Homo sapiens: one gene and its partners. The protein of the gene in region 2 interacts with the protein of the main gene of each other region in a pairwise test. Each region holds a gene or a part of one and is shown on either strand. Other genes may lie near its edges.

Evidence for each region.
Region 1: the proteins of NEBL (region 2) and MYPN interact in a two-hybrid assay, tested with the Homo sapiens proteins (one study listed by BioGRID).
Region 3: the proteins of NEBL (region 2) and TRIM55 interact in a two-hybrid assay, tested with the Homo sapiens proteins (one study listed by BioGRID).

What each region holds. Positions count from the first base shown.
Region 1 is NC_000010.11:68,105,535-68,112,487, forward strand, and holds the start of MYPN (myopalladin), read left to right. Parts: upstream 1-3,953; 5' UTR 3,954-4,189; intron 4,190-6,953. UniProt on the Homo sapiens protein: Component of the sarcomere that tethers together nebulin (skeletal muscle) and nebulette (cardiac muscle) to alpha-actinin, at the Z lines.
Region 2 is NC_000010.11:20,809,427-20,818,146, forward strand, and holds part of NEBL (nebulette), read right to left. Parts: intron 8,267-8,720; coding exon 8,174-8,266; exon of another isoform or gene 8,079-8,173; intron 6,292-8,078; coding exon 6,199-6,291; intron 4,618-6,198; coding exon 4,513-4,617; intron 3,515-4,512; coding exon 3,343-3,514; intron 473-3,342; coding exon 380-472; intron 1-379. UniProt on the Homo sapiens protein: Binds to actin and plays an important role in the assembly of the Z-disk. May functionally link sarcomeric actin to the desmin intermediate filaments in the heart muscle sarcomeres.
Region 3 is NC_000008.11:66,172,129-66,175,985, forward strand, and holds the end of TRIM55 (tripartite motif-containing protein 55), read left to right. Parts: intron 1-2,342; coding exon 2,343-2,465; 3' UTR 2,466-3,357; downstream 3,358-3,857. UniProt on the Homo sapiens protein: E3 ubiquitin ligase that plays an important role in regulating cardiac development and contractility, muscle growth, metabolism, and fiber-type differentiation.

The DNA of each region.
Region 1 (6,953 bases), about 47 Mb from region 2:
AAAGTTCTGAATAGATTTTCTTCTTGGAAATAATACTTTTTGAAAAGTGTAAACTTTGATATGTACTACATACCAAAAGAACAAGTAAAGGAAGCTTTGTTGTGTTTTAATGCAAACCACACAGTAAAGCTTTAATTTAATCACCTTAAAATTAGGGGAACAAACAGGAAGTGTTGTAATAATTGATTGTTTTTTCGTATTTACCTTAATAAATGCCTTGACCATAGTCCCAGTTTGGTACCAGATAAAGATATTTATACATGTAATATGCATCCTGTGTATAGATATCTTATGTATTCCATATGCTTTATTCTTGAGAATTTCTTCACTCTTATTTTCATTTAGACTAAGGAGAAATCAAGAAAGCCTATTTCCTTAGTCATCTTAGTCATTATCCACCCCCACCAGCCCTGCAGGCTAAGAACATCGTGCAGACTGAGTTATTAAAGTTGATCTGAAAGAGCAATCTGTTCTAAATGACTGTCCCTGGATCTGCAACGGAACCCTGTAAATACCCTTCATTACTCTGGCGGGGCAGTATCACATTTCCTTCATGGCACTTTTGTGTCTGACACAAGTTAGGCAGTGAGATTTGGACTTTAGATGATCCTGGTTGATTGATATAGGAATGGTGCTTCTCCTGAGACAGGTAACCACAAATTTACTTCTCAGGATAATGTTTTAAAGTGGGTGTTCTGTTTAGTTTTTAAAAATGTTTTTAGTTTTTAAAACTAAGTGGGTTTTGAACTTTTAGTTTTTTTTTTTAATGTTTTTAGTTTTCCCAGGCAAGCATTTTCAGTAGTTTAGATGAAAAAGAAATTTCTTAGTGATTTCATTGTCTTTTTCAATTATATTGTTGTCATGCCTTTTATATAAGATCTTTTATAATCCACCACCCATCTATTGTTTTGGATAGTCAAGAACTTGTCTTTGCTGTGAAAATTTTTCTCATTAAAAATGGCTAAAAAATACATACTTTCTCTGTTTTTCAAAAATACGGCATAGAGGTTTTGTTTAGTTTTTTCATCTGATACTGGATATGTCAAGATGAATCTATGAACTTCAAGCAAAACTTATTGAAGCTTTGGTATATGTGAGTAATTTGTTTTAGAGAACTGGAGCCTATAGCGATATAAAAAAATAGCAAATGCAAACATTTTATATGAATCTACTAGCATGGAAATTCTCCCATGCTTACCGTCCAAGTGAAGACTTCCTCTGCCATAGAACTTCCAGATTCCTTGGCATTCCTGTGGATCATCCCAATGTGAGTAAATTGTTTCTGTGGCTGACTGACTGAATTAAGAAAACAGCTGAAGGCAAGCACAGGATCGTGTTCAAACCACAAGAAACACATGTGTTGGATGAGCCACTCAACTTTATGGGGAAGGCTTAAGACATGTAACCAACCTTGTGTTTGCTTGCCACTTAACAAAGTTTGTTTTTAACTATGTTGGGCATTAGAAAGTTTTAAAGATTATTTTTTGTATCAATAAACTCTGATGAAATCTTGAACTAGTAGGTTTGTGATATAATGTTTATACAATTACAACTGAAGATAAGCAAGGCAGGAGCTGGGTTATTTGGAAGCAGAAATTAGTTTTTAAAAACTAAAATCTAAAATATGTTTGATGTACTATAACCAGAGTGTTCACAATTACTAAATATTATTTATTTAAAACATTTATATTCAGCTTTTTTTCAAAGAGCTCAAAAATTGTGTATGGTATCTGTATTTGAAAATGTTGCAGTAAAAATGAAAAGAGAAAGATGACTGCCATTCAGAATGTCTTTGGCTTCTCTTTTCTTTTTTTTTTTTTTTTTTTGAGACAGTCTTGCTGTGTCACCCAGTCTGGAGTGCAATGGCACCATCTCGGCTCACTGCAACCTCTGCCTCCCAGGTTCAAGAGACTCTCCTGCCTCAGCCTCCCAAGGAGCTGGGACTACAGGCATGCACCTCTACGCCCTGCTAATTTTTTTTTTTTTTTGTATTTTTAGTAGAGATGGGGTTTCGCTACGTTGCCCAGGCTGGTCTCAAACTCCTGAGCTCAGGCGATCCGCCTGCCTCAACCTCCCAAAGTGCTAGGATTACAGGCGTGATCCCCCGCGCCCGGCCGGCTTCTTTTTTCTGTAACTCTTCTTTTGCATTTTAAACCTACTTTAATTCTTCATATAGATTCCTAATTTCACTGCCCAACCAGCTTTATTCTACCTTTTAGTATGAGTCTCCTTCAACCTTAGTATTCTATACCTGGGTGAAAGGTAGAATACCAGGCTTATCATGGCAGTTTGCAGGAAAGTAAAAATGTGTTTACTTATAGTGTGTTTAAACATTGCCTTTACTAGCCACCTGAAATAGAGGTTCTATTCTCCCATGGGAGAGACCTACCCAAGACCCAGCAGCACTTAACATTGATTACGGCTTAAGATCTGAGTGGGATAGTGGAGGAAGATCCTCTTTTTAAATAAAAAGAAATTGTTGGCATATCCACATAAATAGAATATGCAGAAGGACAATTAAGTGGTCTTGACATTAGTATCAGCACAAGATTAGGTAAGAGAAAAAATAAATCTGTACATTGAAGCTCTGGGTTACTGTGGTAATGAGAATAACCTGTACAGATAATTCATTTCCTCCTGTATCCTCTTCTCTCCTCAATACCAGTTATTTCAATCTGAATTATTTAAAAGTGTTCTTCATCTTTTTTTGCCTGTGTAAGCATAAAACCACATAAAAAAGGTGTAATTAAACCTCCAATGTGATCACAATAAGCAAAGAAATTTTATATCTGTTCAATGTACTATCAATAGTCTCACGATGACTGAAGAGGATAAAGATCTCTTCGTAAATTCCACGAGGTCAGAAATTTTTGTGTATTTTGTGCACTGTTTTATACTCAGTACCTGGTACACAGTAGGCATTACGAAAATAATTATCAAATGAATGAATGACTAGGAAGAAACCCTATAAGCAGTTGTATGACTTAATTAAGAAAGCTAGATTTAAACCAATGTGTTTCATGCTATCAGAATCTAAGAATGATCTTTTTAAAGAATAATAACCATCATTTAAGTCTGAATTTTCAAAGTCCTGTCTTCTACCATGATTGATAATGTTATAGCATCATTTAATCTATACTAAGCAATCAGGTTAACTTTTTTCAAGTTTATTTATTTATTTATTTTTAATTTTATTATTTTTTTTGAGACAGAGTTTCGCTCTGTCCCCCTTGTTGGAATGCAGTAGCGTGATCTCGGCTCACCGCAACCTCTACCTCCCCGGTTCAAGTGATTCTCCTGCCGCAGCCTCCTGAGTAGCTGATTTATAGGCATGCGCCACCAAACCTGGCTAATTTTTGTATATTTAGTGGAGACGGGGTTTCGCCATGTAGGCCAGCCTGGTCTTGAACTCCTGACCTCAGGTGATCTGCCCACATCAGCCTCCCAAAGTGCTGGGATTACAGGAGTGAGCCACTGCGCCCAGCCAAGGAATTTTTAACGTTAGTTACCTTGTCTGCTTTTGCTTAGCCTTTGGACGAACAATCCAAAAAAGCTCTCAGCTTTAAAACGTTAGACCTTAGCTTCAGGTTGGCTTTTCATAGCCAAATGTCCTAAAATGTATCAGTGATTTAATGAGAGTAAATTTCCTATTGATTAAAATTAAAGATCTTAAAAATTAAAATGAAGAGTTTTCATACATTTAAAAATAATGCCATTTTTTTGAATGATGAACTATGGTATAATGCATTTAGTGTTCATTCCAAACGTCAATCAATAAATAACATGGGCCTCTAGCTATAAGGGAAATTCTATAGGTAAAAGAACTGATTGACCCCCACCCCCATAGGTGCTGTCCTGCTATGGAATCCCTTTGCTCAGTTTTCTCCTGTCCAATCAGGTGGAATGTTTCACAGGCACATGGTTTATACAGCTCAAAATAACTTGGGACCTGTGAGCTGACAAATGCTCTGGCTCCGGTGGTGACAGGTTGTCCAGCTTCTTACAGCCATCTTCACTGAAACTAAGGTTAACTCCTCACTCTCTATGGACGGCTACTCTCTATTTCCAAGGGCGTGAAGAATTTCCCTCTTCTCCTGTGCTTTCATCTAAAAGTTCTCCCTGGATAATTATCATTGCAGTGGAGTGCCTGGATTGGACATCCTCATCTGGGTCAACTAAAAAAAGAAAGGTAATATCCAGATTTAAGTTCACAAGTGTGTTTTGATAACAGGGCACTGACAGTGGAAAAGCGAATATTTCAAAGAACTCATTACTGTTACTTGAAATGAAACCTAGGATAACTGTCTAATTACATATGACGGGACACGAAATTAAGTGAAAAATAAAGCTTTCCACATGTAAAGATTTTGGAGGGGATTGATGAGACTCACAGAGATCACAGACTACTTGAGTTCCTAAGGAAAAATATCTCAACAGAAGAAGTTGTGACATGTTGCATATCTCATTGGCATTTTCCACACATTCATTTATTAAAAGAATGTTGTTTATATAGAGAATATGTAAGCAATGCCAGTTTCCTTTTTAAAGGAAGTTGAATCTAAAATAATATGCCTGCATAAAGACTTTCATTTTAAATTTTTTTATCATGTAAAAGGATACGCTTGCTATATTTAGTGTTGGGAGATCTGCTCCCTGGATTAATGTACACAACAGCTGCAGAAAGTCTTGCTCAAGGGACATTGCTCTTTCTTTCTCCTTTCTCTCTCTCTCTCTCTCTCCGTCTCTTTCTCTCTCTCCCTTTTCAGCTGCATCAGAAAGACACTTGACAGTCAGTGGCAAATGTTTGGCCTGGTACATTGCACTATTAGCAGTAATAGATGCACATCTTGAGTTAAATTTTAAAAACTGTATAAGCAAAGACAGAGAAAAGATGGATTATTATGTATTTCCAGTCCTCAAAAGTGAACATTACAGTAATGGTGTTAAGGAATTTTAGTAACTTATCAACAGATTTTTATATGCTTATTAAAGATATTAACATCAGCTTGAAAGAAACAACACAGTCATCCAGTTTTCTTTCTCAAAAAAGTATGATTCAATTACTTTTACTTTAGTAATAATGAAATGAATCCTACAAACACTAAATTAAAAATTTGTCATAACTTTATAGTCTCTCCTTAATAATAACAGCTCTTGAGTTCACATAAAATTCATAATCCTTTTCTAGGAAATTGAGAATGTCTATACTTACAGCTATCATAAACATATTTTTTAAAACAGAAAATAAGATATACTGTCCGACACATGATTTGACAACAAGCAAAATATTTAAAATCAAGGCCATCCCAAGAAATCTGAAATATATGGATAATATACTTACAGAGGTGTCAAGAGATAAAATTATAGGCCTTACAGAATCTTATAATAATGGACTATGAAACAAACAGTTGAACACTATCCAAATTCTGGAAGTGTGTCTCTATCCCCACTTATAGTATATGGCTAATGCTACTGGAACTCATAATAATGTGTTAAAACCCCAGTCTTCCATATATCTACAATTTATAATATAGACACTACTACAATATGCTTACAAAGGCACTTTCAGTAGAACAGACACAGAACCACAATTTATGGACACAAGAAGTTGAATGAGTTTTTGTCCAAGCTGGTTTTGGAATTCATAGTGGTAGTTTTTGCAAATTTGCTTTTGAACATATGAGACAACAGGTAAATCAGGTTCCATTTTGAAAGGGTTTTAATGAACTAATGTTGGTATGTGAAAAAGTGAGAGTTCAATTTTTCAACAGTTAGTTCCTACACGTAATAGGAATAGTAGACTCAGTTCACTAACCTGAAAATATAAGTCAAATGCTCCTGCCAACCCTAGAACAATTAATTTTTTTTTCATTCACATTGAGATTTGACAAAGATGTTGCTGGTCTCATGGTGTTAGATAACAAGATAGAAAAATGAAAGGGTTTTCTTAACAGGTTTTCCCCTCTCCTAGGGGATGATATTTTTTAAAATATCTCTGTGGTGCTTCATGGTTGACCAAATGCTTTTAAAACTACTATAACATTACCCATTTGCTTAAAGGGAACAACTTAGGTAGAGACTAAATGGTCTGTTTAGAAATTTAAGAACAATTTCAGCAGATATATTTTTGGTGGGAACAAAGGTTGGTGGGACTATTTACCTGCAGTAGCTATAGAGTTCTCAGAGTTCATGTATAACCAGAGTCACCTTGACAAGCTCTGTGCAGGCTCCCTGCTACGGAGACCTCCACTCGGAGTCACAGTGCACTCCACTCTCAGGGAGGGGCCCAATAGAGCCTCCCAACAAAGTGCTTGAACTAGAACTTGATCTTGAGATCCCTTGGGACACCTACTGCTCTCTCAATCTAGCAAATGTATTATGTCAATTTAATTAGGGAAGTTAGCTTTTTTCAAATCCTTAATTACCTTAAAAATGACACAAATAGTAAGAAGCTGAAGAAGAATGAAAGTGTTAAATTTTTGCATTTAAAAAATAAATATTTGAGTTGATAGGGATTGACGAAGTTTTCCCATTTGGGATTTCCTTTATAACAGTTTGGTTCATTATGAATGGTGAGATCTTGAGAGTGATATAAAACCTCCTATGCCTATCACTTTTGTGACAACCACCAAACCCTTTTTCTTTTTTGATCCTAGATTCTTGAAGTCTTCTTGATTGCCTTCCATGAGACTTTCTATGGGCCATAGGATTTATTTTTTACAATATTTCTTCTCTGTCTTTCAGATTAAATAGTACCTTTGAGCTCTGGCTGCAGTGTCTTTCACTAGCGCTTCCCTACATGTTTGTCATCCTCTGGATACAAAAACATACATAATACGCTTCGTAGGAGCCAGTCTTTTTTCTCCCACTCAAACGAAATCTTTACTTTCTTTCCTACATTCTTACTTTTACCAATTCGATTAAAATAATAATAAGAAAATGGCCTACTCACC
Region 2 (8,720 bases):
CTACTGTTCTATATATAATTCTTTAAATCTACCTTTAAAAAATTATAACAATGTATTTCATGAAACAAACCTCCTTTTGTCTCAGCACTTTAGTGCAATCCAAATAACTGTATTTGTAAACCCAGAAATAATATAAAAGCATTCTTACTAATAAAAAGCTTATTTAAATGAATCTAGGACAGACTAATTAAGATATATTAAAAAGTTTTCTTTTCATAAATGACTAATTGTATTTAAAAGTAGCATAGCATTTTTTTGGTTTGCCAAATTCTCAGCTTTAAAATTTACATTACACAGTACAATGAACCTCTACAGTTCACAGTGGTTCACTTTTGGGACAAAACCACATAAATGGGATGAACTAAAAAGTGAGTAATACCAGAGAGCATATGGAGACTTCTAGACTGAATATTGTCTTCCAGGGGATCAAGGTCGAAGATGGAGCCAGGATCTGTGCGCCAAACTTTGAGGTCTTTTGCCAAAAGGAAGAAATCAACACTCATCAAGAAGGAATTTAAAAAAGGAAAAAAAAAAAAAAAAGCCAGTACCCAAAAGAGTCAAGACAAAGTCTGCAAAGGAATAGATATAAGAAGCAAACATGTAACAGACAAACTCACAGTGCTGCTGACTTCAGAAGAGAATGAAAAAATACTTGCTTTCACAAGTATCTGTTAAGAAATCTTTGTAATCAGATTGAAGTTGCCTGCTCTATTCATTGAGCTGCCCTATCAGACCTTGCTGAAGTACCTGTGACCCATCACACAACACAGGAGCACATGGGGCAGCTATATGCATCCCCTCACAGCACCCCTGAATCCCCAGTCACTCTTGCTCTCCACAGGCTGAAACAAGCAAAATGTTTGATTATAGTTTCTGATTCAGGACATGTGAGTAATTCATAGGAAACAATTGAGAAGTTTATGTTTAAAAAACAAAACAAACAAAAAAAAAGTCCCTTTCTATAACAGAAATGAATATTTAAAATGTGGAATGGTGGCAAGCCTAGTTTTCATTCTGAGTCTGTGAGTGCAAGCTAAGTGTATCTTAGGGAATGCATATCTTATTAGATACACTTATTTAAAAAGTGTTATAAGCAAGGCACACAGCAAGGAAATATGATGAATGAAAAGAGAAATAATATCAGCTTCCTGCTGTCAATGGATCCCTGCCATAGTCAGTGATCAGACTGTGCAAACCACTTTATTCTCCTCTTATTTTAATAACTTCTGAATTCACCAGTCTCTCCAACAAAAGGGCATCAGATCCTAAAATAAGCTGTTTACAGCTGTACCAACAACTGGAAAAGAAAAACCTAGTTATAGACATACGGCAGAAATGGGGCTACAGCAAAAACAATTAATTTGTAAAATGGAACTGGAAATTTGCTTGTCTGTTTTTAATTAATATTATGTAGTGCTGACCATATGCCAGGCACTCTTCTCATTTAACACCTAATTAATTTAAGTTTCATACATATTATCCTCATTTTGTAGATGAGGAAACTGAGGCACAGAGAAATTGAGTAGCTTGGCCAAGGTTACACAGCTCGTAAGAAGTAGCAGAGCCTCCAACAAAAATAGAAGCAGCACAAATTGGCTTAATCTGAATTACTCAGAAAATCTCTAAACGTGTATTTTCATGCCTGATACAGAAGCTGGCTCATTGGAAAGTTTAATGTTGGCCAATTATGGAAATTTCAATGGAAAACAGTTCTTCCCAATAAGAACAAATAAACTGACTTCTGGATTGCCAAGTAAGTAAATAACTTAGAGTCATACATCTTATATTTTATAAAACAATCATAATTTCAACCTCAATGGTTTTGAGTACTGAATTCTGAGAGCCCACGGTCTAGACAGTTTCATGGTTTTTAGCAACGACCTCACCATCATTCCTGACCTCTGATGTGTGCAGGGCCTGGAAGTAAGCTGTACAGACTTTAGCAGTTCCACCCTAAGTGAGATAAATCAGAACCCCTGCACTATCCCTTAAGATAGTTCCATCCCTTTAGCACAAAGCAATGAAACTCTAATTTGGTGTCACATTGAATGAAAACATCACAACTCATCCATCCAACTTAATGTGATCCTTTTAAGTAATCAACTCAGGCAGATCAGCAAAGCTATCAATTGCCTACAAACATGTTTGGAATCCTTCTTCAGAAAATACTTCCAGAGTCACTTTAGTATAATCATCCAAGTTACTTAGTGCTGCTCTGACTTTAGCACCCTGGTTTTGTAAAGACATTACCCTGTCAAATTTAGCTTATCTCTAAATGGCCTTTCACTAGTACCAAAAAATAAGCTCCTACTTTTGAAGATGAAGAAAACCTAACACTGATATTACTGAGTGGCATATACCAAAAATATTCTTTAAGCTACGTAACTACATAATTCAGAGGTTAACTGCTCTGAAGGAGACAATAGTCTTCAGTTGTTGATACAGACTGAAAAATCAATAATCATCCTTCCTAGCCCTGCCTTATACTTCAGTATGATCTTTTCTGATATCTCAGCCACCATTCAACAAATATCCTTCTAGGATTTCTCCTGACTATAAGGAACAGATAGCAGGAATAAAAGTTTGCTCTCTTAATTGCAAGACTTTCAGATGGCTCTCAACTATTCCAGTCCAGAAATAATATTTTTAAAATGAGCTATTACTATTATGGAGTACCATCAGAACGCCCATGGCGTGTCTGTTTTTGATAAAAGGACCTAAACGCAATATGGTTATTTCTGCCACTTATGCACATGAGGTCAACAGAACAACACGTCAACCAAGCAGAAAAACAATTATTTTGTTTTTCTTTTTAAAGAAAAACAAAGTAATTGTTCAACCATTGTGATCACTCATATCTCTGCTGCTTCTTTGCTTAACAAGGAGGAACATTCTTTTTTTTATTATTATTATACTTGAAGTTCTAGGGTACATGTGCACAACATGCAGGTTTGTTACATACGTATACATGTGCCACGTTGGTGTGCTGCACCCTTAACTCGTCATTTACATTAGGTGTATCTCCTAATGCTATCCCTCCCCCCTCCCCCCACCTCACAACAGGCCCTGGTGTGTGATACAAGGAGGAACATTCTTAAAATTAGCAAGGTATTAAAGACAGAGCTTCCAATAATAGAAAAGACTTGAGATGATACCAGGTGAATGCCAGAAATCCCATTCCACATCGTACAAAAATAATACTTTACCTGCGGTCCATTTTAAATTGGGTACCACAACCAACATGTGATGAGGAGTCAGATGACTCAAGAGGGTAATTCTGAAGCTAGAGCAAGCATGATCTTTTCGACCACACACACCGGCCGACAAACGCCGTCAGCTTACCAACAATGATTCCAGGTCTCCTGTCCATCTCCACGATGTGAGGGTGGACCCCTTTATAGGCAGCATCGCTGACCACCTGGGTGTTCTTCCTCACTCTCTCTGTCACAGGATCGTCCACGACGGGAGTAAAGCCTCTCCCCTTTGTTTTTTCAAAATCTTCATGGTATTTTACCTGAAAAAGGAAAAATCATCATACTGAATTTTGCGGATAGTTACCTCTTTCACAACATTTTTATTAAATGACAGGTGTACACTGCACTGGCTGCGTGCAGATTGTCTACATGTATGTATCTTTTCCAAATACTCCAAAACTAAAGTCTGGAACTTCAGTTTCTTAGCATCAGAAATCAAGTGCTGATATTTTCACAAAGTTTTTAATCATTATAGCTCATATCTATTTTAAATTATATATAAAACTATATATATATTATTAATGAGAGCTTGTAAAAATACATATTCTCAAATCCTGGTTACTTCCTAAAATATACTAATTTAAATATAAATTAAATTTCCTATCTCTTCAACTTCAGTATGCAATAAAGTGATATCTATTTCCAGGCAATCATTCATGAAAATGGCATTATTTAAAATCAGTTTGAAATTTTATAGGTAACAATATATACCACTTTTAATATAATTACAAAAACTTATACTTCAAAATATACTTTTTTTATGTCCTGAAATTAGGTCCAGGAGATAGTTGTGTAACTGTAAATTATACTAGAAACCATTGAATTGAACACTTTAAATGGGCAAACTTTATGGTAGGTAAATTACATCTGATAATATAATTTTTAAAACACACATTTTTAAAAACACAGCTTTAAAAACACACTTCTTTTCATATCCTTTATGACAGGCAAACAGACCAAATTTTGTCTTAGAATTAATTGGAAAGAAGTCTACACAAATATCTTTCACACTATGAGTTTACAGTAGTCACGTTAGAAATAAAGACACACCAGAAAAAGTCACTGAGAAAAATCATTTTATTAGACTAAATGTTTCCACTGCATTTCAGTGTGATTAGAAATGCCCCTCCCTCAAAAGACAAGCCAACCACATTTCCATGCTTTGTTAGTTATCGGATTAATAGTGAAGTAATGCCATCCGTGCACTGGATCCGCCCATTCCTTAGCATGTTTTAAGAATGATCTGGTTGGACCCTACCATTGAAATATGATTTTGTGCTTCTTTAACATGTCTCATAGCAGGTGTATCTAAAATCAGACTTGGTCTACCTTTCATCTGTTTATGGTCCTGGGTATATTTTACCTGCAAAGTAAATAGTAGGCATAAGACAATGATAAGAAAACACATGATGTAACATTTTTAAGCTTTACAAATGAGTGAAACATATGCAACATACTTGAAATTATTTTCCAGGTAACTATTTCAGTGAATTAAATTTTGTTCTAGAATAGCAACCTAAAATTTTACAATCAAAGATCTCCTCCACCGCCTACTGCTAAATGACCTAAATCTATCAACTCTAAACAAATGTGTGAATGACCAATAGTAACTATCTATCTAGTCTGTAAACCTGCGCAAGCCCGAGGACTCGTATCTGTAATCACAGCACTTTGGAAAGCTAAGGTGGGAGGATGACTTGAGGCCTGGGATTTGAGACTAGGCTGGGCAGCACAGTGAAACCCCCCATCTCTACAGGTAAAAATTAAAAAAAAAAAAAAATTAGTTGGGCGTGTGCCTGTAGTCCCAGCTACTTGAGAGGTTAAGACAAGACAGCTGCTTGAGCCCAGGAGTTCAAAGCTGCAATGAGCTATGATTGTGCTATTGCATTCCAGCCCGGGCAACAGAGACTGTGTCTCAAACACACACATACACACATACACACACACACACACACACACAACTGGTTATCATATTTAAGTTAAACAGAGAAAATCCAAAACTATTAAATAGAACCCAAAGTTATTTTGTTTCTAAATTTCCCAATTTTCTACCATAAGAGTGTTAAAAAATGCATACAAGCTACTCTATTTCTTTTTATTTTTTTCTCTGCTTAGGGAATAAGAAACAATGAGGAACAAATTTAGTTGTTCTTCTAAGCAGCCACAACTTAAAGGTAATTTATGTTAAATACACACAGCATCTCTGGACAGAAATGTCACTAGGAAGCTGTAAATTGCAAAGCCTAAATGCTGATTCTCAGGCAAACAGCTATTCAGGGTATGCTAAGAAAAGGGCCTGTGTTCTTCACAACTGCCCATCAGAACACCGCCATTTATGAAACTGATTAGGTGTAAGATATGGATACCACTTACTGTGGACCTGAGGGCATTATGTACAATTCAGAATTGAAGCCCTGATATTCACTAAGAGGAAGCACAATATTCAGATAAGATACTCATGTACACCACTGGACTTTGGTGAGCAACTGAATTCTACGTTAACTGTATTTAAGGATTCTTTTCTGTAAGTCTTTAGTGGGGGTAATGATCCATCTCCTATTTTGTTTTGCAGACAGCATTTAACAATCCATGTTCAATGAAATATTTCAGGAAAATGACAATTATTTAACGCACACATCAAAGGCTTTACCACCTTCAAAGACACGGCTAACATATCATGAATCGTTGTTTAAATGAATATAATTTTAACCTAAGCTTTGAATGTAACTGTTGGTCACATCTGGAAATAACAAAGAGTTGCAAAATAATGTAAATGTTTGCAGTGGCAGCTTTTGGAAGTCATCTGAAATAACACATGTACTTATTGGACACATCACAAATGTTTCTTGAAAATAAGTTTTATTTTCACAAGCAAAGGAGGACCGCAAGTAAATAATAAAAGACACATCCTTTGTGATAGTCTAAAATGAAGAAAACCACTTGCCGAGCTAATATTTTCTTGATTCTTCTTCACTCTTTCCATTTCAGGAGTTACACTTAAAGTGGTAGCTCTTCCCAGCTGACCTCTGTAATAAACCTATCATTTCAGAGAACAAAAAATAGAATACTATGAATCAATTCAACAAAGAGACTTATTTATTTATTTAAGACAGGGTCTTGCTCTGTCACCCAGGCTGAAGTGCAGTGGTACAATCTTTGCTCACCACAGCCTCGATCTCCCAGGCTCAGGCAATCCTCCCACCTCAGCCTCCCAGGTAGCTGGGATTACAGGCACCTGCCACCATGCCTGGCTAATTTTTGTATTTTTGTAGAGATTGAGTTTTGCCATGTTGTCCAAGCTGACCTGAAACTCCTGGGCTCAAGTGATCCACCCACCTCAGCCTCCCAAAGTGCTGGGATGACAATCCTGAGCCACAGTGCCTGGCTCACAGTATTTATTTTAATGAGTTAGTCAGGGAAGTTTTGTAGGAAACTACAAAAAATATTTTCAGAGGTTGAGTTGTATTTAAAATGCTGGCATCTTAAATCAATCTATTTCATTTCATCCCATAAGAGAGTACATGTGTCCAAATCACTGTGGATGTACTCGAATACATAGGCATACCATCCGTAAAGCTGTAATAAATATTTAACCACAAAAGGAAATGAGAATAAATGTCTTCATGGAGATTACTTAAAGGTATTCACCGTAGACTGGTACTACATGGTCGTGGTTTCTTAGGAATTAACTGCGGCAGAATTTTTGTAAAGATGTGTTTAAATAGGTGACTGTGGGCATCCTTTAAAAAGCCAGCATGCTTCTCACTGGTCCACTCCTTGTCTAAATAACCATGTTCCTTTTTGAGAATAATGGAGTCACATCAAGTATGACTCTAAATATATGGGGGAAAGATGAGCGTCTACTTCTCTAAAATATAGTTGTTAGGAAAAGTATCAATCACCTGCCTTTGCATTATAAACTGGTAAAATGACTTTAAAGGTGTGAAGAATAAAAGATTTCTTTGAACGTAATAGATTTCCAAGTTTCCTCTTCCAAAGAACCCAATCTATATGTTAATGACTGTAAAAGAGGACTTTCTTCTTGAACTGCATCCGTGAATTATTTCAACAACAGGGAATCGGAGCAGGCCACAAGTTGGTGTCTAGGTAAAAACTGCCAGCCCCTTATTAAGTGCCCCCAAAATGGTCCTGTCCAATATAACCTATTCAGCCATGCACACATTATCATTTCTTCCTAGACTTTGCCCAAAAATGGAGTCATGATTGTGGGAAGTGGAAAGTGGGGCTCGGAGGAAGCGCAAGAACAGGAACACATGCTGGTAGAAAAGGGAGGGAAAATGTTTGTTTGTAGGGCCAGGATGCCAGAAGCTACGACTGTGGGACTTGAGGAGACCATAGCACCCATCAGCTAGATGACAAGATAGAAGGGATACACAACAACCTGTCAAAAAAAGTCACCCAGGCCCGGTGGCACACATCTGTAATCCCAGCACTTTGGGAGGCCAAGGTGGCCGGATTGCATGAGCTCAGGAGTTTGAGACCAGCCCAAACCCCGTCTCTACAAAAAATACAAAAATTAGCCAGGTGTGGCAGCATGTGCCTGTAATCCCAGCTGCTTGGGAGGTTGAGCTGGGAGGATCACTTGAACCCAGAAGGCAAAGGTTGCAGTGAGTCAAGATTGTGCCACTGCATTCCAGTCTGGGTGACAGAGCAAGACCCTGTCTCAAAAAAACAAAAAGAAAAAAGTCATCCTGATGAGTCACTGGGAACCCTGAGGTGGGGAACACCTGACTGTACCCACAATACCAAAGTCCCCGAAATCTTTCAAATAAGTTGTTAGTCAAATGAGAACAGGACATCAGCTCAAGGTTATGAAAATTCTATAAATACAATCCCTTCATTCACACGTGGACAATGCATTTGATAGTGTAAGAAAAAAGTTACTAAGATGATCACACATTGCTGATGTTTTTCTGGTTTTCTTTTGCCCTCTTCAGCTCTGGTGGATCAGAAATTGCAGTTCCCCGTTGAAGTTCTCCCTTATATTTTACCTAAGAAGGATAAATAAGAACTTTAACAGATAGCACAATGGGCTCCACTGAAATACCACAAAGGACAAGGCTCAAAATTAGCACCATCTTTTTACACATTTTTTTCCACAGTTGATTACATCAACCTTCACGCTTACATATACGCCCACATTCCGATGGGTCTGATTTAGCAAGCACAAGTTGTTGCTGGTACTGTTTAAATATGTCTTCAATAAATGCTTTCCTCTTCAATATCAAAATTAACCATAAATTCCACAAATAAAAGTAATGGAATCATAAGGCAACATGCTTTAAAAGAAACGCCAGAATGAAGTCATTACAAGAGAACTCTTGTGAAGTCCATTCCCTGTCACCCTAGAAGGCTTTTTACTGTCTTCTGACCGTGGGGCTTCTCCCTTCAATAGAAGCTAAAGCTCTCTGACTCCTACCACCTCCCAGGGATATTATAAGGATA
Region 3 (3,857 bases), on a different chromosome or scaffold from region 2:
GTGTAAAGTGCTTTATGTGTATTACTTTATTCAGTCCTTACGACAACCTTGTAAGGTAGGTTCTCATCTCTATTTTACAGAAGAGAAAACTAAGGCTCAGAGAGTTAACTAACTTGTCCAAGTCATACAGCTAATAAGTAGTTTGTGTGGGATTCAAAACTAGGCTAAGCCTCTTTGCACAGAACTTTCTTTGCTGAGCTGGTTGTTGGGTCCTCAGTGGATATAAACAAGACCAAGGAGATGGTGCAATTATCTAAAGATACTCAGGATAACCTCTGCTATTGGATAACCCCCCACTCTGGTACTGGCTTTTCTTTTCTGAAAGATAGCATTGGTCCATATTGTTTGGAGGAAAACTTAATAATTTCCTGGAAACATGGAAGTGTAAGAGAAGCCAACCCAAACTATGTAATCCCAAATATGAAGGCAATAGTGGGTTAACAACTAAAACATTTTAAATGGAAGATAGATGTCAATCTCTAGTAGAGGAAAGCACAAAAATTTATACATATTCCAAAAGCAGTCCCAGGGGCTTGTTCGCTACCAGCAGTTTCCCAAAGGTTCTGCCTTCTGCAGAAAACACATTACCCAACTTGTGTCACCCTTCAACTATGTCAGAACAGCTGCCATGGAAGTTCCCTTTAGATTAGAAACTGCCTTCAAGAAAAAGAGGCCACAAAATGGACCTTGATGGTCTGTTCATCCAGGCGGAATTCGCTATTTGCTCAAATTGAATGGTTAAAAATAAGTCTTTTTATATATGCCCAGGTCATTTGGGCTTTCGGGGTTTTTTGTTGTTGTTGTTTTTTGCATAAGCCATACATGAGACTTAAGGGTTTGTTTTTTGTTTGTTTGTTTATTAGCCAGGGTAAGAGGATTATGGTGGGCAAGGAAGGAGTTGGACGTGTAAAAATAGGTGCAGGATTCTGTCAGGATAATGTTTATTTTACTTCACTTTCAAGGACATTGAGGTATCTGACACATTACCAACAGAATCTAGTAACGTTCTTTTTCAAAAAGCCCAATTTCGCTTGATGTTTCCACTATTCCTTCATAGAAAACTACCTATTTCAGTTTTATTCTACTGTGGCTAATATGATTTCATGGCCCTTTTTAACTTTCTATCAGGAAGCAATGTGGCAGTACAAAGGATTATCCCAAAGCCATAAAGACTTAGGATAATTTTATTGCTCTTGAAACATCATCCCCAAACATATGTTTAGGGTAAAATCTGGTAAAGTGCAGGCCAATAACTCATTTTGCTCTCAAGACTATTTTGAGTGGCAGTAAAACAACATACTTAACCAAAGTTCTGCTTTACTTGTGCCAGGTATTATCCATTCATATCGCAGCTTCATAAAATCATCCAGGGCTTCTGAGCTGAATGCATGTGGCTACCTCACTGCTTTGAAATCAGTGGCATTCTAATCTGGTGGGATAATTTTACCAGTGATGTCATCGGAACATGTTTGCTTATTTATCCATAGTTCTCCTAGGAAGGACGGTGTTTGTCATGGTACCTTGAAATGTAAAGAGTTTGAGCTCATAAAATCAAATTGCATTTCAGCAAGACTTCTTCCTGATTGTCCCTCATTCCATTAAGTTGTGATTTTTAAAGGCAAAACAACATAAGTAAATTTTGCTTATGACATAGATTAATCAATAAATTCAGAATTGCAACCTGTCTATCTCAGGTGCCTACAAAAGATAATTATTTCTTTAGACATGCTTATATTGGATTTGATTTAATATAGATATGGTTATTAGATTTTATTACCTAGAGAAAAAAAAATCCCATCATGATTTGCCCAAAATTAAGCCTGTAGTTTTGTAAAAATTATAGTAAGAAAATATATATGTATATGCATGCTAGAAACTTCTTCAGCAGTGGAGGGATTATATTAATATGTCCCACAATGTCATGTGGCATAGCAGTGCCATTTAAATTTGGAATTTTTTCAAATTCTGCAACCCTTTCTAAACCCAGTTCCTAGAGGTTTCAATGAGACTTTCATCTGAATAAATCATGTACAAGTGGACTTAAAAAAAAAAAAAACTAGAATAGCCTGAACTCCTTTTTCCCAAGAACTTCTCTCCACTGCATGCATTACTGTTCCTTCTTTTTGTATCATGAGTGTGAATTATTTTCATGACTCTTGGCTGTAGCCAAAATAATCTGAGCTTGCTTTCTATTTCTAATAATTATGTGCCATATAATAATATTGTTATTATAATAATAATTGTTATTATTATTATACTTTCTCCTCAATAGAAAAGTGACTGGACCAATCCAAAAAGAACAAACCTCTTTTTTCTCTGATTCCCATTTTCTTCCATTGCAGATTGGATTTGAGGCTCCTCCCCTCCAGGGACAGGCTGCAGCTCCAGCGAGTGGCAGTGGAGCTGATTCTGAGCCAGCTCGCCATATCTTCTCCTTTTCCTGGTTGAACTCCCTAAATGAATGATATTCATTCCAACTGCTGCCCCTCTGTCTGCCTGGCTGAGATGCATGTGGGCAGCAGGAAGCCCAAGTGAAATTAATATTATGCAGATGATGAAAGGGACCTCTGAACAGGATTTCTGCAAAAATAGCCCCAAACTGCAATTCCATATGACTTATCTAACATCTTGGGGGGAAAGAATATTTTGAGAAAATAGTTGCAGAAAGCACTGGAAATAATAAACTTGATCTTATACAAATCTTCTATTGTGTGGAAAATGTTGTGAAGGGTGTGTAGGTGTGGTACATGTGTATGTCACTAACAAGTGGCAAATGGTGAAAAAAGTGGTCACTATGCTTTTGTCTCTCATAGGCACTGACTTTTTGTTATTATATTATGGTAGCTTTCATTTCCTTTACTCTTTAACAGTGCAGGTGGTCAGTGAAAATCAGTGTCAACTCAGAAGTGACTGATTTATCAATACATGGACAAAAAGTAAATCATTGACCAAAGCTATGAAATGTTTCACAAAGTTTTCCTCTTTTGCATAACAGATGTCACTGGATGTACATTCAGAAATGTTCTTTGAATTTGGTGACACTTTCATGGTCCAGAAAGCTGAAGGCCTGGGCATCTCTTGTGACATTTTTCTAATATTAGTTTTAGATTTTCACGTATTAGGCACTTTAGTTGAATCTTCCAGCAAAAGCTGTCTACTTTCTCTTTTATTCACTGTGGCACCAATCTGGTAAATTGTAGAACAATTGCATGTGTTTAAATATATATACAAACATATCACACATTAAATATATATATATTTAAATCATGCTTTGTTAATATTTGTCCCACCATAATGCCTCCTTCAGAACATAAGTGTAACTTTATATGAACTCTTAAATAAATGATGTTTTTAAAAGCTTCGTCTTATAATGATTTATTCAATGTTCTGTATTATCTTATTCATCCATTAGTTAAGTGTATTTCAAGGGTCCCAGGATAAGATGCATCTTCATACAGACAAATTAATTTTGAAGTATTAAACATTTGATTGAATTGTTTAAAGCTATAACTAAACTACCAAAGGCAAATGCACTGTAAAACTAATTAAATGTGCTGTTCAGTTTTAGAAATGAACAAAGGTAGTTCCTGTTCCTAAGAATAAAAGTGATTAGGGTTGACATAAGCAAAAATGTGGAGGATATTTGTGTAATTATTAAAGTCAAAATGTTCTTCATAAGAAAATTTTCCTATGTGACATTTTATAATGACTAAATTTAGTCGTCTTAAGTGGAGATGCTATTAAGTTTCTCTTATTAGATGTAGTCATTGGAAAATAGCTTAGAAAAAATAGTTTTATGGTACCAAAGTAGTAGTTTGACAGAGTGAGTTTTTCTCATAGAAAAAGAATGCAGCATT